Linked DNA regions of Homo sapiens. The protein of the gene in region 3 purifies or fractionates together with the protein of the main gene of each other region. This does not show direct contact. Each region holds a gene or a part of one and is shown on either strand. Other genes may lie near its edges. The genes, in order: KLHL25, ACACB, MID1IP1 and MID1.

Evidence for each region.
Region 1: the proteins of MID1IP1 (region 3) and KLHL25 purify together in Homo sapiens (co-immunoprecipitation; 2 studies listed by BioGRID and IntAct, with this or other methods). This does not show direct contact.
Region 2: the proteins of MID1IP1 (region 3) and ACACB purify together in Homo sapiens (co-immunoprecipitation; 2 studies listed by BioGRID and IntAct, with this or other methods). This does not show direct contact.
Region 4: the proteins of MID1IP1 (region 3) and MID1 purify together in Homo sapiens (affinity purification with western blotting; 2 studies listed by BioGRID and IntAct, with this or other methods). This does not show direct contact.

The regions. Positions count from the first base shown.
Region 1 is NC_000015.10:85,791,926-85,799,185, forward strand, and holds the start of KLHL25 (kelch-like protein 25), read right to left. Parts: upstream 3,001-7,260; 5' UTR 2,841-3,000; intron 2,759-2,840; exon of another isoform or gene 1-2,758. UniProt on the Homo sapiens protein: Substrate-specific adapter of a BCR (BTB-CUL3-RBX1) E3 ubiquitin ligase complex involved in various processes, such as translation homeostasis and lipid synthesis.
Region 2 is NC_000012.12:109,245,565-109,252,596, reverse strand, and holds part of ACACB (acetyl-CoA carboxylase 2), read right to left. Parts: intron 6,972-7,032; coding exon 6,849-6,971; intron 6,419-6,848; coding exon 6,149-6,418; intron 4,992-6,148; coding exon 4,894-4,991; intron 2,614-4,893; coding exon 2,493-2,613; intron 552-2,492; coding exon 441-551; coding exon of another isoform or gene 276-440; exon of another isoform or gene 19-275; intron 1-18. UniProt on the Homo sapiens protein: Mitochondrial enzyme that catalyzes the carboxylation of acetyl-CoA to malonyl-CoA and plays a central role in fatty acid metabolism.
Region 3 is NC_000023.11:38,797,307-38,804,477, reverse strand, and holds the start of MID1IP1 (mid1-interacting protein 1), read right to left. Parts: upstream 3,020-7,171; 5' UTR 2,991-3,019; exon of another isoform or gene 2,686-2,990; intron 1,944-2,685; 5' UTR 65-1,943; intron 1-64. UniProt on the Homo sapiens protein: Plays a role in the regulation of lipogenesis in liver. Up-regulates ACACA enzyme activity. Required for efficient lipid biosynthesis, including triacylglycerol, diacylglycerol and phospholipid. Involved in stabilization of microtubules.
Region 4 is NC_000023.11:10,445,024-10,449,585, reverse strand, and holds the end of MID1 (E3 ubiquitin-protein ligase Midline-1), read left to right. Parts: coding exon 1-218; 3' UTR 219-4,030; downstream 4,031-4,562. UniProt on the Homo sapiens protein: Has E3 ubiquitin ligase activity towards IGBP1, promoting its monoubiquitination, which results in deprotection of the catalytic subunit of protein phosphatase PP2A, and its subsequent degradation by polyubiquitination.

The DNA.
Region 1 (7,260 bases), on a different chromosome or scaffold from region 3:
GTTAAAAGGACTTAACAGGGAGCCCTTCCTATCCCCAAACCCCTTCGCTTCCCCACCTAATCCCACAGCACCCCTTCCCCAGTTTCTAACAGCCCCAGAAGGACCTGGAGGCAGTATGGGATGATTATGCCTTGAAGATGACAGGTGTCAGCTTTTGACAGCTTTAGGTTGGTATGGCAATGAGGTGGTCAAGGAAAGGGGTTGGAACCTACTGTAGGGGCTGGGCTGACTTCCATCAGCTGGGGATAGCTGCTGATTGATAAGTCCTGTTGGGATGCTGTGACTGAAAGCTGTGGATGCTTAAGTTCTCCCTCCTCCCTCCTCCCCTGCACCTCCCTCCTCTACCCCCAGCTTGTTCCAACTAAGTGTTTCCTGGTGAGGAAAATGCTTCAACAGCCTTGGCTGGCTGAGGCAATTAAATTATGAAATTTACCACATTAGATGAAAACCAGCATCTCAATCAACCAATTCATTTGTGTCTGGCCACTCTGTTTTCTTGTGCCAGCTCTGCCCACACTGGCCAGGCTATGCCTACACTGCCTGGTGGTACAGAGGGACTAGGGGCTCAGACAATGGGCTGGTCTTTGGGACCAGGGGGTAGGTTCTCCCAGGACCCCCAGAGAAGAGAGGCTGCATCCAGAAGCCATCCAGCTTCCTACAAATGCGCTGGACTGCTGACTGTGCGGCCAGACACTACGGACGAGAGCAAACCTTCTACCACCTCCCACTTGCATTCTCCATGGCCTCAACCTGTGCCTATCTTGAGGCTGGCAATGAATTGGGCCTCTGGGAGAAGTGTGGGTGAGCGACAGGACAAAGGTGGCTGCCCTACACCTCGAATCTGGGCGATGACATGCCTTTCTCATCTTAGTCAAGGCATCCTCTCCCCAGGAAGCCTTGCCCACCTGTGTCTCCTTCTCTCCTCTTGCTGCCTCTATCACTACGATGTGTCAGGGCCCCTAATCCATGTGCCAGCACTCCCTCATCTAGGTGCTCACTAAAGGAAGAGTCTCCAGCACCTAACTCAGGGCCTGGCACACAGCAGGTGCCCAATCAAGTCTGTTCAAACAATGAATCAATCAATCAATCAGTCACAAACCACCCACTAAATAACACTCTCACTCATCCTACCCTTCCCCCCGCCCCCGCCCAAGTGATAGACGGGACGAACCAAGCTTGCTTTCACTGGGTAATTGTTCTCTTTTCTTCCTGCTCTCTTCTGCCCACACGGGGTGCCCGCAGATTTAAAACGCTATTAAGGGGCATCGGGCTGCAGAACCTGCTTCCGATGTGGAGCATGCAATTTGCCTATAGCTCTTCTCTCCGCACCACATACATAAATCCAACTGCAGCCCAAGACCCCAGGATGAAGGTGTCTTCCATTTCTACCTCCCTTTTATCAACCACCCTGGAGTCACTGCCTGACAAATGACTCAAAACTGAAATAGCTGCCAGGCCGGAAAAAGACTGACTACGTCAACCTTCACAGGCACAGCTTGTGGACCCAAGAGCCTCCGGTCTTGGGACACCAAATGGACCCTGAGGTGGGGTAGACTTTGTGTCCTACTCTTCCCCAGACCCCCACGCAAGCCTTCACCAACATGCCAGGAATCCTCACAGCTCAGATCAGCACACTGAGCATCAGTTCCTCCTATGAATGGGGAGACTGGGACCCAGGGTCCCAGAGGGCTTGGCCCCATAACGGTCACTGGAATCTGGTCCAGGATACAGACCGTGGAATCCTGCCTCCTCTCCTGGTGCTACTGCTAACTTCCTTCCCTTCCTCTCTCTATTGGGCCGATAGAGTGGAACCAAATGGTCCAGACACCTGGCATTCTCTGCCCTGACTACCGAGGAGAGTCAAAGTCCAGCCCGCCTTCCCCAAGGTCAAATTCACCGGGATCCAGCAGGACCCAAGAGCGTCCAGATTAAATCTGCAGGGGCCTGGGTCCGCCCCCTCACCCACAGTTCGTTGGGTCAGGCCTCTAGAGAGATGTTTCTTTGTTCAAAGACAATGGGAATGCACTTTGGGGGCTTAGAGCAGCAACACAAAAAAAGTATCTGGTATCTCCCGGGCACAATCCCCCAAGAGAAAAGCTTCTAAAGCAACTACGAAAGAGACAGGGGGAGTGGGGGCGTAACATCGCGCGGTGTGTCTCGGAGCCAGGGCAAGTGTGGTAATTAGAGTCAGGCTAGAGGGCTTGCTCTGGACCTGCCAGTCTGGCCGCCACCCAGGTGGACAGGTGGGTGTGCCTTTGAGTGCGACCTTTCTCTGCCGCTGGACAGTTCTGCAAACCGAAACGAGGGACCCTGGCAGGCGGAACGTGAACGGCTCGGGGCTCCGCGGCCAGGCCCGCGCAAACCCTCCCCTTGTGAACCCCGGGCCCTCGCTCTGCGCCAGGCAGGCAGCCATCCGGCCTGGGCGTCCAAGGCGCGGGGCATCGCCGCTCGCGTCCTCAAAGACAAGCAGTCTCTCTTTCCAGGATCAATAGTAATTTTTTAAAAAAAAGAGTCTGCGGACTCAATGAATCAACCACTCCCTGGGGAAAGAGTAGCGGCTCCCGCGCGCAACATCCATTTGCCAAACAATTCATTCCCTCGCGCAGAGCTCTCGGCGAATTCCCTCGCGGAGCCGCGGGGTGCCGGCCGGCCGCCGCTCCCCACCATTGTCCCAGGGCCCCGGCCCCAGCCGCGGGGCCCCCTCCCGGGACACGTAGTCCCGCGGGGGCTCCGAGCGCTTGGTCCCGGCCCGGCCCGGGGTGGTGAGTCCCCAGCGCAGGGAGCGGGGGCGCGGGTGCTGCGGCCAGAGCACGGCGTCCCCGCCCGGCCTGGATACTCACTGCCGGAGACGATCCCCGCCGCCGCCGCCGCCTCAGAGACCACTCCCGGCAGCCCGCGCGAGCTCAACAGGCTCCGCCGCGGCTCCCGTCGGCCGGCTCTCCACAGGCAAAAACGCTCTCGCTGCGATACAGCCTAGGCGCCGCCAACAAACTAGTTTCTCCGGCCTTCCCGCCCCGCCTCCCGGCCCGAAGAGCAGCAGCCAATCAGAGGCATCGCCTCTGTGACGGATGGGCAGCCGAACCCTTCAGTGCAGCCGCAGAAAAGAAGGGGGTGGGCCCCAGGCCGCGCCGGCACCGGGGGGTGGGGGGCCGGGGGCGGGGAGGGGGGGGGACCGGGGGCGGGGCGGGGCGAGGAAAAGGACTTCGACCAGATTCTTAAAGAGACAGGCGCCTGCCCAACCCCGCCGCCCAAGTTTGGGAACAAAACGCGACGGTGTTCTAGAGCTTTCCAGAGGGAGCACTGTAGATTGCATATGCCTCTTTTGTGTTCGGGTCACAAGTGTTGTAGATCTCTTTAGACTCTTCAGAGCCACACTAGTAGTTGCCCGAGTGTTAATGAAACCCTGTCTTTCACTCTGGGCTTGTTTGAATGTTTGGGACTTTCTGCAGCCTCCAAACCCCACCTGTACTTGAAATCTGTATTTTTTGGAGTATTTCAGCTCTCCTCTCTGTGTCATTTCTCACTAAACTCCTTTCGTAAGCCAGCCTTTAAATGTTCGTTCATTCATTCATTCATCCATCCATCCAATAATTTCTTCCAGGAACGTTTCCTGGACGCCCACACCATGCACTCATCTTGGAGGGGGAGAACGGTTTGTGATTCTTCGTCCTTTTCCCTCCTGACTACTACTTCAGCTTACTGTGTGTGTCCAATCTCATCCGTAAAGCGGCAGATAAAAACTCCTCATCGGATTATTTGGGGGATTAAAGGAGACAAATTCCCAGACAAATGAGTGCGCAATAAATGTCCTCTCTTTTCTCCCTCCCAATGAAAATCGATAATTCAAGTAGGTTGCTTAAGGATACAAAAGGTAAAGCATAGAAAGTGATAAGAACGAAAGAGCCAAGCCTGGGGCGGGGAAATTCCCAGGAAGCAGAGGTCACCCTGACGGAGGTGGAGGTGGGAGGTGCAAGGAAGGTCTAAGAAAGTGTACAAAGATTTGGGAGAGGGGATAGGATTGTGACTAGTGGAACCTGGGAAATAGAGCCCCTGGGTAGAAAGCTGCTTAGACAGGACAGATATGCCAGGGTTAAAAGACTGGGAGATGATGAGAAGATACCACCAGGGAAGGCATTTTTGGGAAACAGCTTGATGTTCTGGGTTTGAAGCCCCGCCCTGCCCCTCAAGAGCTGGGTAGGACTGAAGCAGATGGCTCAGACTCTCTGGTGTCTGGTTCTTACTGGTGAAGAGGATTCTAAAACCTTTCTTGCAGGGGTATGGGAAAGATTAAGATAACATATGGAATAGGCCTGGCATGTAGTAAGTGCTCAGTACAGATTTGTGCTTCCATTTGGCCCAGATCTGCAGACATCTAAGGCACCAGGGTTCTGATATTTATGAACAATATTGGCCAGAGGTAAGAAGCTTGCCAAGTGCACTGTTAAGGTGCCTTCTGAAGAGAAAAGGTAGTGAGAGGTGAAGCCAGCTGGACTTTCTGGGTCCAGTGGGGACTTGGAGAACTTTTCTGTCTTACAAGAGGATTGTAAAATGCACCAATCAGCGCTCTGTATCTAGCTAGAGGTTTGTAAAATGTACCAATTAGTGCTCTGTAGAAATGCACCAATCAGCACTCTGTGGCTAGCTAGAGGTTTGTAAAACGGACCAATCAGCACTCTGTAAAATGGACCAATCAGCAGCACATGGGCCTGGACAAATAAGCTAATAAAAGCTGGCCGCCCCCCAGCCAGGAGCAGCAACCCACTTGGGTCCCCTTTGGCGCTGTGGGGGCTTTGTTCTTTCGCTCTCCACGGTAAATTTTTCTGCTGCTCACTCTTTGGGTTCACGCCACCTCTAAGAGCTGTAACACTCACCGTGAAGGTCCGCAGCTTCATTCCTGAAGTCAGCGAGACCACCAACCCACCGGAAGGAACCAGCTCCAACACATTAGCATCAAAGTAATTACTTCATTAAGGAAATGACAGAGATCACATTTGTAGTTTTATCCTGCCGATTTTCTAGCACTAGAGTGTTTATAGAATTGTTGGTTGAATGAAGCTCCACATGCAAAATTGATTCTTGGCAAGTTTATAACTGTTGCTTATTATTTTATGCAGGTTCGCTGTAAAATTATAAGTGCCAACCGCCCAGTAAAATCTGGTCCACATTATAATTTTTTCTCTCTTCAACTCCAAGGCTTAAATTAGGTACTAGAATATATTAAAATCAAATACAGTGTAAGCAATGGGACAAAATCAGACTAAGAACACGTGTGGAGTTAATCGAATTTAGGTACGATTTGAAAGAAGATGAGAGGAAGAGCGGAAGTTTGCCTTGCCATCTATTGCGGACCCTGGAGCATTACCGTCAACGCAGCCCTTACCAGCCAGTGTTGTAATGGCCTGCTTAGCTAGTCCACCTGCTGTGCAGGGAGCTCTGGGAGGGCAGGGACCATGAATTCATCTCAGAACTCTTAGGGCTGCATCAAAGTTGTCTACACAGTTTTGAAATACTGTGAATAAATCTCATATCCGTTAGAATTAGTTTTTACTGCATATGACAGAAAACCCAAAATTAACTGTGACTGAAACAAGATAGAAGTTTCTTGCTTATGCAAAATAAAGCTAAAGTTAAGCTATCCTTTGTTGGCAACTCCACAGTTGTCAGAAACACGGGCTACTGTATTTTTATTCCTTCATCTGTAATGCTTGGTTCCCATTTGCAAGGTTGCCCCATAGTCCAAGATGGCTGCTAGGGCTCCAACTCTGACACCTATATCCCAGACAGTAGGAAGGAATAATGGCGGAAGAGCATGAGATGTGTGTCTTCCAGCCTGGTTAGCTCTATTTATGCAGACTGCAGAAGTCCCACACAACACTTTTGTTTATGGACAGAATTTAGTTTTCCTACCTGCAAGAGCAGCTGGGAAATGTAGACTTTTATGTTAGTACATCACCTCCTCAAAGTCAGGGTTCTGTTAACAAGGAAGAGGGAATAGATGCCTGTTGTCCACCAACAATCCTTACCAATACCTTCCTCCCAGCATTGCCATCTAGCTAGTATTCCTGGTGGCCCAGAATCTGAAGTCTCAGAAATTCTGGGATGATGTATAGAATTCAATATATGTTCGTTAATAGATGATCAAATTCTTGGTTCTTTTTTTTTTTTAAAGATGGGGTTTCACTCTTGTTGCCCGGGCTGGAGTGCAATGGCGCAATCTCAGCTCACCACAACCTCTGCCTCCCGAGTTCAAGCGATTCTCCTGCCTCAGCCTCCCGAGTAGCTGCGATCACCAGGCATGCACCATCACGCCTGGCTAATTCTGTATTTTTAGTAGAGACGGGGTTTCTCCATGTTGGTCAGGCTGGTCTCAAACTCCCGACTTCAGGTGATCTGCCCACCTTGGCCTCCCAAAGTGCTGGGATTGCAGGCGTGAGCCACCGCGCCTGGCCTCTTGGTTTCCTTTCTACCTTCTCAGGTGTTCTTTTTAGTCTCCTCTGCTGATTCCCCCTCACTTCTCAGACCTACAAATATTGGAGCGCCCGGGAAGCGAGCGTAGGGAGCATAGGGAGATAAGAAGACCTATTCCCTTCCCTACCTACACCTTCTAAGTGATTTCATCCAAGCCCATGCCTTACGTTCATATAAGCACTGGCAACTGCCAACTCTGTGCTCCCACCCCGCCTTCTCCATAAGCTCCAAGCCCATGGGTGCAGCTGCTTACTGGGTATCTCCATGTGCATGTCTAGGGCACCTTACCCTCAAACTGTCTCCGCTGAGCTCCTATGGCTGCTCTCCCTGTGGGCTTCCCCATCTCAGGAAAGGACAACGCAGTCTTTCCTTTTGTAAGATAAAACTTGGCATCATTCTCTCCTACCCCATGTCCAATCCATCAGGAAATCCCTGTTGAGTCTGAGTACTTACTACTTCCACTGCCACCCCCAGGCTGGTCTAGAGACACTGTCATTTTCTCTCCTCTGTGACATTATGGCAGCCTCCAGGCCATCTCCCTCTTCCACACTGCTCCCATAGAATCTGTTCTCAACACAGCAGCCAGAGGGATCTTTTTATAAGATAATTTCGTTATGTCTGTCTACCCCTCGAAATCCACCAGTAGCTCCCACCTCACTCAGAGTGAAGGCCAGAGTCCTACCATCGGCCCACAAGCCTGCCCTGGTCTGGCCTGGGCCACTCTCACACCTCAACTCCCACCTCCCTGTTCCTGACCCTGACATGCTCTGCTCCAGACCCACTGATCCCTTT
Region 2 (7,032 bases), on a different chromosome or scaffold from region 3:
GACATTAAGTATAGAGACTTTTCAACAAGGAAAATGTTTTAATACAGTGAAAAAAGTAGAATACAAAACTGCATATTCACTATAAATTAACCACATAAAGACAGAAGATGAGAGGGAACTATACCAGAATGATAGAAGCTGCAAAATTACTTTTTTGGGGGGTTCCTTTTCTAATTTTCTGCAATGTGTAATGGCACTTCAATAATTTGTTTTAAAATGTCAGTAATACAGGGAGTTAGATCGACCAGAATTGCCTAAAACTAATTTTTTTTTTCTCATAAGGACCCAGATAGCTGCAAATTGGAAAAAAAGAGCTCTTGTATCAGTAGGAATGAAACTGGCTTCATATTGAGAAAAATCCCCCACCAGAGACCAATGGGAATGTTAAAATGACTCCTGGCCCCCAAGGATCCACTCTGCACAGGCCCCTTTTTGGTCACCTTGTTGAGAGCACTTGCTCCTGTGAGGATGATGTGGGAATTCTCCACCTGGATCACTCGCTGGCCCAGCCTCACCAAGTAGGCCCCAATCCCAATGGCTCGGCAGGTCACCTGTGGAGAGAGGACCCCCTCTGAATTCTGGAGAGTGGCGAGGGACCCACCCCCCACAGCAGGGAAGAGTCCAGGAACCTGCTGGGACCAAATGGAAGTTATGTTTTGACCAATGGCAACCCGATTTGGAGCCAAACCACAGTAGAGGCAAAAGCCTATTCTTCAGGCCACTTTATTGAGCTTGGATTCCTATCTGGAAATAACATGGTTAACAAAGATTGCTGTAAAGACAAGCAGCAGACAGTGAATGTTTCAGATTTTAAGAGGCTTGTGTGCAGCTCTTCTGAGCCTGGGCATTCATGGGCCATTGCAGCCTCTTAACAACCAAAAGGACACCTAGGAGTGCATGTAAAAACTGGTGAAATTCAAAATAAGGTCTGTACTGAGTTAACAATATTGTGCCAATGTCAGTTTCCTGGTTTCGATAATGTACTACGGTTATGTAAGTACCATAGGGGAAGCTGGGTGAAGGGTACTTGGAAATTCTCTGTAGTATCTTATAACTTACGGTGGGTCCTAGATGACTTCAAAATAAAAAGACTATACATATAATCTAGAAAACAAGCCCAAGGAAGATGCTTATGACCAACATTTTCCACTTGGAAACTGAAGATTCAACATTGCATGTACAAATAAGGCCTTCCAAGGCAGTTTATCATTAAAGAGTACTATTATTCCTGCTGCTGCTGCTGTTAGAGTAGGTAGTTAAGCAGACATGAGCAGGGCAGGAGAGGAAGGCAACCATCAGGTGATAGTTAGGCAGTTGCTAAAGTGTCTCTCTAAAATTAATATTGGTCACAGCTGGCTCCAGGGAAAGGCAATCTCCTGATAGATAGAAAACACCTGAAGCTAGTGATAAGCAGCTTCCCCATAAGATCTCAGGAGCTGGGTGGGTGGGCTCAAGCATGCATGCTAAGAGGTAAGATGGCAGAGTTTATCTGGTACCGTGCCCTTCTTCTAGGAACACTCGACTGGTAAAGGAGGAAAGCCTCAAGTGAGCATGCACACAACTTCAGTAAACACACTGTTCATGCGGCCCCTCCTAAGTGCTGGCAGACCACGTGCATGCAGACAGCCCACCCCAAGGGAAGAATCAGGGGAGAAGAAACACAAACCCTGGAATCATGCCAATGCATAAAACCTCAAAAGGGTTGGATGAGGCACTTGGATCTCTCAGGTTGCCTTGTTTGGCCCTCTTCCAAGTGTACTTCATTTCATTCTTGCTTTAAAACTTTTTAATAAACTTTCACTCCTGCTGAGAGACTTGCCTCGGTCTCTCACTCTGCCTTAGACCCATACAGATTCACCACCACAAACACTACTACCACTACTACTACTACCACCACCACTACTACCACCACTGCTAGTACTAGAATTACTACTAGTACTACTACTACTACTACAGTAGTACTACTACTAGAAACAGAAAACATTTTTGGAAAGGCCATGGGGATGGGATGGGGACTACTCCTTATATGCCAGTTAAAGTCAGAGAAAAGTTCTTCTAAACATTCAGTACCTTGAAAATAAGATGAGATTGGACCCTGATTCAAACAAACCACTAGAAAAGGGTATTTTGAGATAACTGTTAAACCACACTGGGTTTCAATGATATTGCTGATTCTGTTGGGTGTAATATTAGTATTTCAGTTATGTTTTTAAAAACCGGGGGAAGAGGGTGAGAGTCATTATCTGTTAAAGATCTACCCTTACGTATTTATGGATGAAAAGACATGATGGGGGCTGGCTTTAAAATACTCTAAAACAGGTGCAGGGGATGGGGGTGAGATTGAGGAAATATCAGTGGGCTGGCATGTGGTAACTGTAGGAGGTATGTGACGGGCACATGGGGCTTATTATTGATTCTCTCTAATTTTGTGACAATTTTAAAGTTTCTATAATGGAAAGTTGAAAAGTAAGAGAAAATAGAAGAAGACTCACCAAGCTAATGGTGACGATCTCTTCGTAAGCCAGAGAGGACTCCCCAGCAATCATGCCTGAGCCCCTCAGATTCTCCACGCCCAAGCCATCATCCTTCCCGATGATATCCGTGATCATGTATCTTCAAAAGCAAGCACAGGTTAAAGGCTGGGCTCTAGCCCCAAAAAATCCAAGGTGGATGCATTTCCCAAGAAGGGACTGACTGGGCAGCAAGGTGAGAGATTGGAAGCAGACAAAGCATCCAGAGGCAAAATGAAATTGGCATCTAGAACCCTCAAAATGAGTGCTAAGATTTCTAAAAGGGCAAGTGCAGCATCAACAATCATCACCCTGCTCTGTAATCCCAGCAGTTTGGGAGGACGAGGCGGGCAGATTACTTGAGGTCAGGAGTTTGAGACCAGCCTGGCCAATATGGCGAAACCCCATCTCTACTAAAAATACAAAAGTTAGCTGGGCGTGGTGGTGCACGCCTGTAATCCCAGCTACTTGGGAAGCTGAGGCAGAAGAATCGCTTGAACCTGGGAAGTGGAGGTTGCAGTGAGCCAAGATTACACCACTGCACTCCAGCCTGGGTGACAGAGCGGGATTCTGTCTCAAATAAATAAATAAATCATCACACTGCTCCCATCTGTGAAAGGAAAATAAAAACTAGGACCACGATTCACAATGCCAAAAGGAACAATTTAAGCTGAAGCTGAGTTGTGCAAGCTGCCTTTCCTTTTGTTTCTTTAGTAAGCAGATAGATACAGATAAAAGCTGAAATATCTCCACAGGTAGTTCCTCTATGTCCACCTTATCTTATAGAAAGTGCTGACTTACTGAGCGCAGGAAGAATACATAACTGACTTCCCCTGCCTGCGCCTTTTCTCCTGCAACATGTGATTACCAGAACTTCCCTCTTTCCCCTCCAGCCTGCTTTTCTCCTTTAAATACTGAAGCCCTCCAAATCATCTTTGAAGAAAGGTACACGCCACAGACGGTTTCTATGATTCCGTGTTCTTTGCTTCTGGATGTGTCCCTAACCTTGGCAAAATAAACTTCTCAATTGATTGAGACCTGTCTCAGATACTTTTTGGTTTATACAACCAAAGATATCTGCCTGTTCAGGGGCTGTCTCAGTGAAATATCACCCTCGGCCCATATTCCTCCAACGGTCTACAGAGAGATGGGGGTACACAGAGGAAACCCATTCACAATCAATCAATCAAAAATTCCAGGGCCACATAATGAGAAACACTGTCCCGCCAGCCTCTGTTAGAGATTCACAATGCACTTTAGCATGTGTGATGGTTAATATTAAGTGTCAACTTTAGGATGCAAAGTACTGTTTCTGGGTGTGTCTTTGAGGGTGTTGCTAGAGGAGATTAACATTTGAGTCAGTGGACTGGGAGAGGAAGACCCATCCTCAATGTGGGTGCGCACCATCCAGTCATCCAGCTGCCAGCGCGGCTAGAAAAAGCAGGTGAAAGAAGGTGGAGTAAGCTGCCTTGCTGAGTCTTCTGGCTTTCATCTTTCTCACATGCTGGAAGCTTCCTGCCCTCAAACATCAGACTCCAGGTTCTTCGGCCTTTGGACTCTTGGACTCACGCCAGTGGTTTGCCAGGGGCCCTCAGGCCTTTGGCCACTGAAGGCTGCACTATTGGCTTCCCTACTTTTGAGGCTTTTAGACTCAGACCGAGCCACTACTGGCTTCCTTGCTCCTCAGCTTGCAGACAGCCTATCATGGGACTTCACCTTATGATCATGTGAGTCAATTCTCCTTAATAAAGTCCCTTTCATATATACATATATCCTACTAGTCCTGTCCCTCTGGAGAACGCTGACTAATACAGCATGCTACAGGTACTAAGAAGGTCTGCAATAAAGATGTTTATGAGATCTCATTTAACCCAGTGTTTCCCAAACTCATCTGACTATGGAATTTCCCCCCAGCTTGTCACTAACATTGCAAAAAACCCAGTCTAGGAAATCCTGAGTCAGTTAATCCCACTGAGAAAAACATAACTTGTCCTGGAAAAGATAGTAGCCTTTGAATGCTCTCGAAGAACAGACCTCTCTCTGCCCCACCCATACCTTCCCAGTTTGCCAAGTCACCGCTGCATCAGTTTGGTCACAAAATGTGAGCCTGCGGCTCCTAGGAGATTCACGAGAATCCAATCTCATTCTCCCTACATGACGTGCTATTTTTTGTGAAAGGAGTCACTCATTTTAGAATGACAAGGATGGACTCACCTTGGAGAGTTTAACAAATGTTTAAGGCATCAGTGCCCCCAACAGGCATTGGTTCCCATCATACAAACACCACCACCCCACTGGAAAATATCGCCACAAGCCCCGAGGAAAGAAGACAGCTGAAATTAACCATGAGCAAAATTAAGGAGCTACCTGATAAGTTATTTACCTGGACTCTCCTCCTTCCTCGATGTGTTTACAGTGGACGGAGTTCAGGGAGCTGATTCTGGTGTAGTCTTGGGGAGTCAGGTACAGGTATTTAAATCCCTTAAAAAATACTTTAGTGAGGCTACGAATCCAGTTCCCTGCACTGAAAGCCACTGTTTTTTTTTTCTTAATGTGAACATCGTAGGGATGGATGTTAATAACATGTTAGTAACATGTCAATGACACATTAACACATCTCATGTAAATACCGTATTAATAACAGCCATAAACTGAAGTTCTGCTTTGAGCTAAGCTCTCCTCTAAGGACTATCTCATTTTTATTTCTTATTGCCAGCACCCCAACATGAAATTTTAATTTTCAAGATACACTGTTTAACCACTATTTACATACTCTGTATATGTATATATGTTAAAAACTATTTTATTGCCACCCCAAAAATTATTTTTCTGTCTTCTTGGGGGTAGTGGGCAATATCGCCCCCGAGAATGCATGCTCTGAATGGAAAGGATGACTGTCCCCTGTCATTTCACATCACAGAATGCGTGCGCTTCCCTCATTCATCTTGCCTTTTATGGCAAGCTGGTATCTATACAACTCCCCAAAGATTTTTCTTTTTTTTTGAGATGGGGGGTCTCACTCAGTTGCCCAGTCTGGAGTGCAGTGGTATGATGATCATGGCTCACTGCAGCCTTGAACTCCTGGGCTCCAAGTGATCCTCCCACTTCAACTTCCCAAGTAGCTGAGGCTGACTACAGGCAGGCACCATCATGCTCACCTAGTTTTTTCATTAGTAGAGACGAAGTCTGGCTATGCTGCCTAGGTTACCTAGCTTGGTCATGAATTCCTGGCTTCAAGCTATCCTCCCACCCAAGCCTCCTGAGTTGCTGGGATGACAGGTGTGAGCCATAATTCTAAGAACGCTATGAGGCCAGGGAGTTGACACAATCACCTCTGCATTCTCAGTGCACACTGCATTCAGGAGCGCTCAGTGTATATCAGCTCAGGGTTTATAGACTTTTTTCATTATCCCCGTTAAGGAGCCTTTTTAGATCTTTTTTTTCTCATCACCATCCCCCCCGCCACAGTGAAATGTTAGTATCACTGATACACTGTATGCCTGTTTATACACTACATGTACATCTGTGCTTTATACATAAGTGAGATTTTTTTCACCTCTTGCAGGTGCTAGCACTCCCACTGAAAATACAGTAGTAGCTGAGCAGAATCACCCTGCCCCGCCAGTTTCACGACGTACTTTGTGGGGGTCTTCTGGGTCCACCCAAGCCACGTGGAACATGTGTTTGATCTCCTCTGCCATGCCAATACGGGCGCCACTGTTGGCTGCCACGTAAATTTTGGGAATGCCCTCTGCCCGGGCCATCTCGGATGCCCGCAGGTACAGAAGGTCCTCTCCAGGGCCAAAGGATCCAATGCGAAAGGTGATGTCATTGCCGATGACGATCACATCCCGTCCTTCCGGGTACTCCTGGGTCTTAAACCTCATTTTGAAGGCCACCATGCCCACCTGGCAAGGGGATGAATGCACAAGGAAAATGAGTTTGTTTCTTTGGGGGAAAACTTTTTATTTTATTTTAGTTATTATTATTTTTTTTAGATACAGGGTCTTGCTCTGTTGCGCAGGCCAGAGTGCAGTGGTGCAATCACAGCTCATTGCAGCCTCAACTTTCTGGGCTTAAGCAATCACTCCTGCCTCAGTCTCTCGAGTAGCTGGGACTATAGGAGCACACCACCACACACAGCTAATTTTAAAATTTTATGTAGAGACAGGTTCTCACCATGTAGCCCAGGCTGGTCTTGAACTTCTGACCTCAAGTGATCCACCCACCTTGGCCTCCCAAAGCACTGGGATTACAGGTGTGAGCTACTGCACCTGGCCCAAAAATATTTTTAAGGGGGTGACTCCAGCCAGGGGTTAGGCTCCGCTGAGCTATTACCTCATTTCCACCAGGAAGTCGGTTCATCTCCACCAGCTGGCCCTGAGAGTCCAACACTAATTCAGTGTATGTCAGGATGTCTTTGGGATACTTGTCTGGGGAGCCCCACAGTTTAAAGAGAGCCTGGGGAGAGAAGAGGAAAGAGAAAAAACTTGAAGTCATCAGTAGGGAAGAACTATCTTTC
Region 3 (7,171 bases):
CTCCGAAAAGCCTGAGCTCAAGCAACCAAGCTGGCCGGGGCAGCGATGGGGCGTGGGCACCCACCTCCTCTTGCGCCTTGAGACTCTCCTGCTCGTTGGCAATTCAGTGTTCTCGCTGCAAGCGGCTGCTACGCAAGGGCGCTGCTGCGGTCAGTGGCTGGACTGTGACTGCGGACGGCGGTGACTGCGTTGGCCCCCTACCCATCCCAGGTGCTCAATTTATAGTCCAGGAAAGGTGTCGCCGGCGCTCAGGGCCACCCCTGGTGTCTCCTCCTCCCGCCTCCCCCGGCAGCACCGAGATAAAAGGCCCAGGCCGGGATGACCGCGAGTAACACTCGCCCGGCCCTTTCTACAGCGGGGGCGGGGCGCGCCGGGCCAGCTCCGCCTCTCGCCTGATACCCGGGCTGAGGGAGGGCGCCGGGGCAGGCCAGGGCAGGGCAGGGCAGAGCAGAGGAGGAGGGATTGGAGCAGCTGGACCCCGCCAGCACCAAGCCCTGGGCAGGCCAGATGAGGAGGGCCGGGCACAGCGAGGGTCAAAAAGGCGTCGGCGTCCGGACCGACTGGAGGGTGGGGCTGGCATGTGGGGGCTGGGCGGGCCTTGCGCGCGCTCCCCGCGTGGGATGACCAGAATGCACGTGCCTTGGTTGCAGAGTGAGCCCCTCAGCCCCGAATCTGGAGTGGCCGCGGCCGGGAAACAGGAACCCGGGTTTATTATTAGCCGTCGGGGAAGAGGGGCCGGCAGCAGGTACAACTCCATCCTGGGACTCTTACGTAATAAAGGGTGACCGGGCATGCTGGGTGCACGTGGACGCGCGGTGCTCCCGCAGTGGCCCTGGCCTTGGTCAGCTATGGGGGGAGGGGAGCGTCAGAGGCTTTTGCCTCCCTCCTGGCGGGGTGGGATCTTTCCCAATCTTTCCTTTAACAGTGGTTGCCGGGGATGAAGAGGGGCACACTATCAGATCTGCTGATTCTTTGAAGAGATCTGCAAGTGGCAATGGGGAGAAGTCCATTTTTGTCCAAGTCGGCTACACAGTGATGCTGGAGAGCCTGGGCCATGTGGCCTTTTGGCTGCCAAGAGGCCAGGAGAGGGTGACAGTAGTTAGGTCTAGTCTTGGGTGTCTTTCACCATTTAACAGAGAAATGGGGAGGTGTCTAATTATTTTTGAGGGTGCTTGTGTGAAGTGTTCCTTTCAAAAGATAGTTCTTAAAGCACTGGGTCATTTAATAGGGCCTAAGCTATGTACCGAATCGCTGGATTTAACTTTTAAGAGCCTTGCACCTTGAATTTCACTTTGAGACTTCCAAACCACAGCCTATTTAATTTTTCCCATCTCATGTCCCTTGCCATATTCCTCATCCACCAGTCCTCTCTGGCAGTCCTACAATTATGTTCAATAAGATTCAAGCTTCTCATTTTAAATCCCTTTTCTCGGCCTGAAACGGTGGCTCACGCCTGTAATCCCAGCACTTTGGGAGGCCGAGGCGGGCGGATCACAAAGTCAGGGGTTCCAGACTAGCCTGGCCAACATGGTGAAACCCGGTCTCTACTAAAAATACAAAAATTAGCCGGGCGTGGTGGCCAGCGCCTGTAATCCCAGCTACTCGGGAGGATGAAGCAGGAGAATTGCTTGAACCCAGGAGGCGGAGTTGCAGTGAGCCGAGATCGTGCCACTGCACTCCAGCCTGGGCGACAGAGCAAGACTCTGTCTCAAATAAAAAAAAAAAAGATCCCTTTTCTCTAAAACTTAACAGAGGTCTCTGTCCCTAGTACAGTTTTTTCCCACGGGACAAAAAATGCCTAAGGAAGGGAGAACATAATAAAGGGGTTTCTTTCTCTCCCTCTTTCTTTCACATTAAGACCTACACTTAAATATTTTCCATAGAAAACCATCTTCCTAATTGTCTTTTGAATGAAATTCTGACTTGGTGCCACAAGGACTAATCTGTTGACAAAAAACAAACAAAACAAAACAAAGTCAGTGACCCTTGGAGACAGACCTAAGTCTGAGGACCCACTACCCCAAAACGTATTAGCTCTACATCACAGCCCATGTTTTCTTACTTGCAAAACTGGGATAGACCTATCAGGGTTTTGAAGGAAGATCAATGGAAAGAAAAATACAGGGAGGCAGGAAGCATTATATAACTTTGAAGCATTAAAATAATTTCACCTTCCTTCTCTGCACACATAGAAACTTTTCTAGCCTCAGTTTCTTTATCAAAAAAATGGAGCTTGTTCCATGGGCCGTGCCAAGGACTTTGATTAAGTTTAAATATGATAATGTAAATAAAAATCACTATGTAAATTGTAAAGTACAAAGATTAATTGTACTTGATACAGGACCTCATCATAGTGAGAGGTGTTTATGTGAAGAGTCAGAAACCTTAAAAGTGTGGAAATTGCCTATGATGAGCCACAGATCCTTCCACCCAACCCCCAGTGCTTAAGCAGGAAAATAATATAAAATATGTCCAATGAGATTGAAAGAGCACTGCAAGAAGAAAACTCGAGAAAAACAGATATACAGTTTCTAGTAGCTGATCTTCTCATAAATTAAAGCGTACTTTGTCCCCCTTCCTGGACCCATTTGGTATTTTAAGTACGTATGCACCCGGATGAAAACTCGGTATTCAGACTTAACTTACTAAATGCCAAAATCTTGCCTCTTTTTCTCTTCTTCCCAGTTCCAACAGTGTGATAACACACGGAAAACGGAAATCCAAGGGATCTAGCAAAAGGATTCCACCCAGCAAAAACGCCAGCTTGGGAGAGGGCCCCTACCTAACTCCTTCCTTCTGGCCTCCACCCCTCCCCTGATACGTTTCCTTCCGTCTAGTCTCGAGATAACCCTTCATCCCCCAGTTTCTTGACTCTGGCCGCTGTTCTTGAACATTTCTTAAACACTTTCAGAGAAAGATGGCTCATGCACCTGCCTGCAAAACTTCCCAAACCGGGCCTCCCAGCTCCCCCAGACCCCGCAACAACTCACACCCGCCGGGGAAACTCCAGAAGGAAAAGGTCCGCCGGCCAGAGCTCTGGGCCCTTGGAATCACCCCACCACCGCCCCTCTGGCTTCAGCCAATCAGAAGCCGTCAGAAAATATTATGCAAATGAATCCTGATGCTCCAGCCAGTCAGAAGCCGCGGAGCCCTCCCCCACGCAGCGTCCTCTTTCACCCCAGCCCCGCCAAGCTGGCTGCCGCGTCCCTGGCAACCGGCGCGCAGCCAGTTCTCCACTACGCTTGGCTGTAAAAAAATTAAAATGGTTGCCTGGGGTCACATGGGAGGGGAGCGGGCTGGCCCAGGCCTAAGGAAGGTTGGAAACCTCACTGATTGCCCCAGGCACCTTCCCTGTCCCGATCTGGAACAGGCTGGAGGTGCTGAGCCACCTGCCCGGAATTCAGTTTGCCTCCAGAAAACAGAAGTCATCCGTTGAACAAATAACTTTCGAGTCCTTGTAGCACGCCAACAGCCTCAAAGCAAGAGGTCTTTGGTCTCTGCTTTCTATCCTATATGCTAAATTTCCGGTAAAAGCCTTGTCTGAGGTACCCATCCCCACTTCTTGGTTCACAGTTGCAATTCTGGAATTCTGGATCTCTTTTTTTTTGTTTTGTTTTTTTTTGAGACGGAGTCTCGCACTGTCGCCAGGCTGGAGTGCAGTGGAGCAATCTCGGCTCACTTCAACCTCTGCCTCCCGGGTTCAAGTGATTCTCCTGCCTCAGCCTCTCCAGTAGCTTGGACTACAGGCGCGCACCACCACGCCCAGCTAATTTTTATATTTTTAGTAGAGACGGGGTTTCACCATGTTGGCCAGGATGGTCTCGATCTCTTGACCTCTTGATCCGCCCGCCTCGGCCTCCCAAAGTGCTGGGATTACAGGCGTAAGCCACCAGCGCCCTGCCGGAACTCTTAAATTCTGGTTCTTAATTCCCACTCTTTTAATTAAGCAACCTGGAAAGCATGCTTTGCTGGCTCATCTCCCCAAAAATGTCCACAAATTATCCTTGTACTGTGTCCCTTGGATAGTTTTTTTTTGGGGGGGGGGAATGACATTTTAAAAGTGACCAGAAATTCCTGAACAAAGTAGTCAGCAAGAGTAAACTGGTGCAAGAAAGTCAGACTGGATAAAGAAGAGATCTGGCCTAGAACTGGAAGAAAGATGATATTTTAAGGCAAGAAGCCAGCCCAACCCAAGATAGCAGAGATCCTGGATTATTTTGAGACAGACTTAGAAGGATCCATTTCATGAAAAATGTCCTAGAAATATGACAGTCAGACTCTCGTGTTAAAGGCCATGTAGTCCAACCATCCACTTGTGCTGAAATCGCTCACAACATCCCCACCAAGTGGTCGCCCTTGCCTACATTCTTCTATTTTCCGTTCTCCAGTGTTCTTCTATCTTTTGGAGCTCTACAGAAGGCCATGAAGCACACCATCAGATGTTTGAAGGTAGATATGGTCTCCTTAAGTCTACTGTTCTTCAAGTCAGTTATCCCCAGTTCCTGTAGCCATTCTTCATGTTCTCTTTTGAGTCGCTCATCCATCCTAGTCACTAACTTTAGAAGTAGCTCTGGTTTGCTTTTGAGTGTGGCCCCTCTCATTCCAAGTACCATCTTTTCTAGGACAAAATGGAGTGGCACAGCCACTTATATTATTGTGAATGGTAATTTTTCTAGGTCATATTTATTGAGCACAAGTGCTTGGAAATTAGACTTGTTAACTCAAAAGACATGTTAACTCATTTTAACTTCACAACCACCCTGAGAAGAAAGCAAGGATCAAAGAGTTTAAGGGCCAAACTGTCAGAACTGGGATTTGACCCAGTTTTCTAATGCCAAATCCAATGTTCTTTCTACTACTCAATAGATAGCTACTGCTTATAATGCTGCCTAACATTTAATGGACTTATTTTAACAGCTACATCTATATGCTGCCATCTATATAACAAAATTTTGTGTACCCTATACTTGAGTAGTGGGGATTTTTTGGACCAAAGTACAGAACTTTATATTATCCTACTTAAACTTTATCTCATTGGATTTGGCCCATTAGTTCAGCCTGTTTTATTATTTTGGGTCCTGATTCTGTGCTGTAATGCACTTGGATCTTACCCATATATTTGATAACTATTCTATATATTTATCCAAGTTATTGATAATAGGTACCAGGCACCACTGGGCAAGAGGCAAATTGCTGTAGAACATCTGGAGAGCTCCTTCAGTTTGATATCCGTCCATTAATTGGCACTTTTTGGCATAAGTTGTTCCAGCCAGCTATGAATCATGTTAATTGTACAGTCATCCAGCCTATATTTTTCTTCTTGACCACAGGATATTATGAGAGACCTTGCTAAGTGCCTTGCTGAAGTCCCAAGCTAATAGCCAGTTTTCTTCCTGTGGAGTCAAGAAGAAGGGCATTTTTGTCATATACCACAAAGAAACCACCATCACATGATACAAAAATGCAGAAATAGCATCATAATAATCTGAGTTAAGATGGGGAAGGGAGTGTATCTTATTGTAATTGTCCTTACAGGAAAAACCGTCATGAAGGTTTAGTTGAGAGAAGGTAGACAGAAAAATGCCAAAACCTAAGAACAGTGAGTAGTGAATCTGCTGGCTTCAGATCCACTTTCAGGTTTTGGAATGTCTGAATATGTCGTAGTTAGCATTTTGTCACAATCTCATTTTTTAAAGCGTCTTTAGCCTTGCGTTTGGAAGAAGTAGAGCACAGGGAAAGTTGAGAATACTAAAGAATACCTTTTGTTATGTTCTCATCATTTCTACATCTTTAAGAACTCTGAACCGTATACAGAACTGTACATTCAATTTCAATATGGTAGATGAGAAAAGGGCAAGACACATCATAGCTTTTCTTACCACATAGAAACTTCTCAAGTTGATTTTTCCTAGATCCTTAGGATTCCAGGACTTTCTTGTACCATCAGCATAGAAGGAAGAATGAGAATGTTCTTTCTTCACTCTATCCTGTTAAAATGTGTCAGCTTGGTTAGTTTAAATTCTGAAATTAGATTCAAAGTTTACAAATTATAACACCAAATTAGGGAGAAAACACATAATTATCAATATTTCATATGTTCAAGTCCTAATTACAAATCCACATATATACATATACATATGGGTTGTAGCTTCATTTTGTTGAAGCTACAGTGTCATAAATACATTATCCAATGGACGGGTTCAACAGTTACACGCCCAAGTCTTCCATAATTTACTCTTCCAACCTTAATAATAAAAAAACTAGACCTAGACAAGGTACAATGAAGTCAAGGCGAATTCACCTACATCATATTAGACAGTCTGGACAGAGTTAGTACACAAAAGATGTAAATCTAGAAGCAAATACAACCTACAAGTCCTTCCAGCTATAGAAGACCTTGATAAGAATAGAAAAATAATAAACAATTAGGAAGATTTGAAAAAGGATATTGCAGAGCAAAAGAAACAAAATTTGAACCAAACACATCACTAGAGAGTCAATAAATGTAATTCCAAACAAGGAACAAAACAGGCATGCCAGAAAATTCAGTTACTGGCATAGGGCAAAAGGTTCAGGTAATCCCAATGAAAAGACACAAAAGAGTGAAAGAAAATGGAGAGGAAATGTTGGATAGAGAAGACAAAGACAACATAATATAGGCCAGGCGCAGTGGCTCACACCTGTAATCCCAGCACTTTGGGAGGCTGAGGTGGGTAGATCACTTGAGGTCAGGAGTTTGAGACCAGCCTGGCCAACATAGTGAAACCCCATCTCTACTAAAAATACAAAAAAATTTAGCTGGGCATGGTTGTGCATGCCTGTAATCCCAGCTACTTGGGAGGCTGAGGCAGGAGAATCACTTGAACCCAGGGGGCGGAAGTTGCAGTGAGCCGAGATCATGCCACTGCACTCCAGCCTGGGCAACAGAGTGAGACCCCGTCTCAAAACACACACACACATACACACACACACACACACACACACACACACACACACACACACAATATAAGCTTAACTGATGTTTCCAAAGAGACCTCAACATGTGAAATAGAAGAAATTCAGTTGTAACATAGAAAATTTTCCTTGACAAGATGCATTCATCTGCAGATTTAATAAGCATACTATATACCAGATAAAATTATGCAGAACAGTTGAAAAACAAGCTAGTTGT
Region 4 (4,562 bases), about 28 Mb from region 3:
AGCCTGCCCCCCACCTCCGGCGCGTGGGCATCCTGCTGGACTATGATAACGGCTCTATCGCCTTTTATGATGCTTTGAACTCCATCCACCTCTACACCTTCGACGTCGCATTTGCGCAGCCTGTTTGCCCCACCTTCACCGTGTGGAACAAGTGTCTGACGATTATCACTGGGCTCCCTATCCCAGACCATTTGGACTGCACAGAGCAGCTGCCGTGAGCGTCTGGCCACATGGAGCTGCTTTCTGGGGAACAGTAAGGTTCAGGCCACTATTTAGGGGACTGAGAAAGCACAGGCTTCATGAGTGTAATGAAATCTCACCAGAAGTGTCCCGAAATCGGCTCAGATAGGGCTCAAAACAAGAGATTCCTCTCCTTTTACTGTGTCTTGTATTAAGTACGGGCTTTAATAATTTCTTTAATTTTTTTGTATTTAGAGGAAAATCTATAGATTATTTATAAGAGAAACATAATCAGGATTACAACTTTTAGGAATTACTTGGTTTTGCACATTAAGAGGCCCATAAGTTTATCAGCTATTTACAACCTTCATTTCATCACAATCTGTGGGCTTACAAAAAAACAAAAACTTTTGTAGTTTTGTATGTTACTCATCTTCTTACCTGATATCCCATGATGATCCCATGGTAGGTCTTCTCACCTCGATGGTGCATAACAGGATGTGTTTGAACCTAGTAGGGGAGGAAACAGGCTTTCTTACTCTGGTTTAATTTGAAGTGTTTTAATTGTGATGTCAAAAAGTTGTATCAGATCAACTAAAATGGAGAGCAAGACAGAGAATGAAAAGAGTTGATTTTGGACCTCGGACCTTGCCGTGGCTAAATCTTTACCTTCTCATAGCTGATGGGATAATGTTGGAAAGAAAGGTTCTGAATCCTTTGGCCACATTTTGCCCTGCTTCTCTCAGGGTTAAGGGTTCTGGAAGAACATTAAGAATGAGATTGCAATTGAAAATAGTCATTTTGAATCCTATTGATTATTCAAAAATTCAGGCTGATTTGTCTTTTATCAGAGGTAGGATTCTGTTTTATAGTATAGAATCTACTTTATCCTTCCTTTTAATAGTTCCTTTAGACCTGTGAAATTTCTTCACTACATTTAATAGTTCTCCTATTTCCCGCTCCCCCATATCAATTTTCCTTTTGTCTCCGGGGCTGAGTAAATAAACATGTTCTGTCACAAATAGCAGCACCACTTTGGATTGATTTTGCTCTCCAGGACATCAGCACATGGCCCTGATCAGCACTACCACATCCAAACATAAGTCACTGAAAAACACTTAATATTTATGAGTTGGTAATGACAAGGGACATTGTATAAAGTACTATTTGCTAGATTCATGCCTCAAAAGTTATTATAAACAGACCTTTATTAAACACATCTTGAAAGATGTAGAAGTCCCTCTATAGTCTAGTATAGTTTACAATAGAGTTGTAAGACCAAAAAAAAAAAAAAAAAATTCAAACTCGTTATTCAGGAACCTGCTTATAAAATGTCAGCTGGGATTCTTTGCATGCCAATCTGATGCGTTGGAATGGTCCATGAATTAAGGCTTTCTTGAGCAGTTCTTGGCCCAGAACTCTGGCATTGGTTCTAGTTTGATGAAGGGCATGACCTCTATAAATGGTTTCAATTGCTAAAATATTTACCTGGGATACTGGGTCAGCCATTTTGACTGAGCAGACTAGTGGATTTAGACATTGTTTTTAGTTATTTTGTTTTTAACCAAATCAACCAACTGCCTCCCTGAAATAAGTCAATGAACTCATTGTTTCAGCATCACGTGGCCAAAGGTCATGTGATTGCAAATCTGGATTTCAAGGGAGGCCAAGCCAGCTTCCTGGGTCCTTCCATCCTCTTCCCTAGCAGACACTCTCCTTTTTCTTAACAGATAGATTCTATATATTTACTATATTATTTATACCCAGATGAATATTTTGATAGATACCTAAGACAATTTCACATCTAAAAGATGGACGCCTCAATGGAAAAAAAACAATCTTTCTCTGGAAACCTTATAGGTTTTTCTTTTTATTACAATATAAAAGCAATGTGTGTTTGCCTTCTCTGAGTAAACTGAAAGGGTTGTCTCAGTAATTTTTACATACATTTTGGGTAACTGGATAATGGATATTTTAATGCACTTTGTACACTAACAGGTTCTAAATAAAAGGGTCTAAAACTCAGCTTCTGAGTTTTTAAAATCACGGTCTCCAGGTACCAATAAATGCTACAGTTTGCCTTATGATGTTAACATAAAACACTTAGTAGAAGGACAATATTTCCATGAAAATAATGTTTTTCAATATTAAGAAGTTACTACTCAAATTTTCACAGTAAGCCATTTAGGGTATGTTTGGCTATTTTTATAAGGACATGAGAGATTATGTCATAATTTTGTTGTGGAAGTCTCACTCTTGGCTAACTTAAAAGCATTGTGGATAGTAGCAGTTACTAGTTCCAGGTTGTCATATTTACAGGAAAATATGTATATGGTGAAAGGCCACCGTGTTTAATTACTATAATGATGTAGAAAAGATTCCCGTGTGAATTTTTTTTTTGAAAGTCTAAAAAATGTATGCTGTAAAAATTTGCTGCAGTGTAATTTTGCATTCTCTTTAAACTGATTGAGGTCACAGTATTTTATTATTTGGGGTCCTCACCACAGGAAACACTGCGATACAGGGGCAAAAGAGATGGCAGTGCCAATTAAATTAATACAACAAAATCAATGCAGCACCAACCAAGACTGCCAGGTCTGGTGTCATGGGTATGCCCAGAGCCCAGGAGTTCAGAAGGGCCCTAAGCCTGATTTAATGCTCTGCTGTTGATGTCTTGAAATTCTTAACAATTTTTGAACAAGGGGCCTGCGTTTTCACTTCGCACTGGGCCTTGCAAATTACATAGCGAGTGCTCATAAAAGAACTCAGAAACGTGGTACCTCTCTTCCTGGTGGATACAAATAAAGAAATCTGGATCCAAAGTTGAAAGTTGCTGGCGATATCATTCAAGTAGGACTCTAAATAGTGGATTAAGATGAGGGTGGGCCTGGGTGAAGATTCTTTCCAGCTTTAAAAGAAAGTGACTTCAAAAACTGACTGCAAATATTGACGATGGTTTCTGCTGGAGGAAAAGAAACAGCTTGAATACAGACAGGCTTTTTTATTACGGTACTGATATATTGACCTTAAACTTGCTGAGGAACTGAACTAACGTCCTCCAGTGACCGTGGAATTCCATCTCAGCTCCAGGAACATGCAGATACCTGCAAAGAGACACGCATATATGCTGGCATACATGTGCATTTGGTGTTGGGAAGTTGACCATCTGGTCTATCTTAATAAAATGGTAAAAAGCACACCAAGACAATGATGGGGGCAGGAGGATGTTTTTGAAAACAGCGCTTCTCAACCAGTGCTCGATTTTGCCCCCCAGGAGACATTTGGCAATGCAATGGCAACTTTTGGTTGTCGCAGCCGGGGAAGGGAAGCTACCAGCATCTAGTGCGTAGAGGTCATGGACGCCGTTAAACATCCTACAGTGCAAGCGCAGCCCCCGACCACGAAGAGTTGTCTTGCTCAAATATCAACAGTGCTGCAGTGTAGAAACTTGATCGTTGGTTTTCTTTTAATGCAAAACTCTCATAAAAACCTTTCACTTTTCCTGTCATTGATTATATGCTTGATACACCCAAAAAGAAAAGGGGAGGGGCACCAATTCACCTACACTCCAGTGGCTCCATCACCTTTAAAAATATTTATAAAATAGTTCCAAAAATCTGATATCTGAAAAGCAATCCAAGCCTGTGTAAATGGGAATCACTGATAAGTATCATCATCTGTATCAGCTTGGCTTGGACATGAAAAATTGATTCTCTTTATGTCACTCCTTGCACCTGGACAAATTCAATCCCCGGTACTTAAGTCACACTGCCAAGCCCTCGGCCCTGACTATTGTCTTGATTGCTGTTCCTTTCTGGTTCAAAATAAAATCATTTTTGTGGCACCAAGACCCTCTGTCTCTGCCTGTCTCTGTTGCCTTTTCATCATTTTGTGTTTTTGCAGTTATGATGTTGACAAATATTTATTCAACATCTACCATTTATTCATACTACTTTATGACATATAATTCATTTTCTTTTACTGTCTCTCATCCACTATTTGCCTTTCCCTATTCAAAATACAATTCTTTTGCAACACTCAAAATATTCTCCAGGGAATTTTTAAAACACAATAAAAGAAAGCCTATATAGAAGTGGAAACCCAGAACAAGGTTTGCTTGATTTCAAGTCTTATAGATGGGGTGAGGAAGAGAAGAGCAATGATTATTTGAACAGAGCACTGGGAGTCTTTACAGTGTGATCTAGGAGAATCCTAGCAGTTGGTCCATACATATATCCTCAACCCCATCCCATGGACCTGACTTTCTCTCACTAGAGATGCAAGCCTTTGGTCTTGGTCAGTGCTATGCAAAGTGTGGTCCAGGAATCTGCAGCATCTGCATCACCTGCGAGCTTGTTAGAACTGTCAGTTCTCCTGCCTCC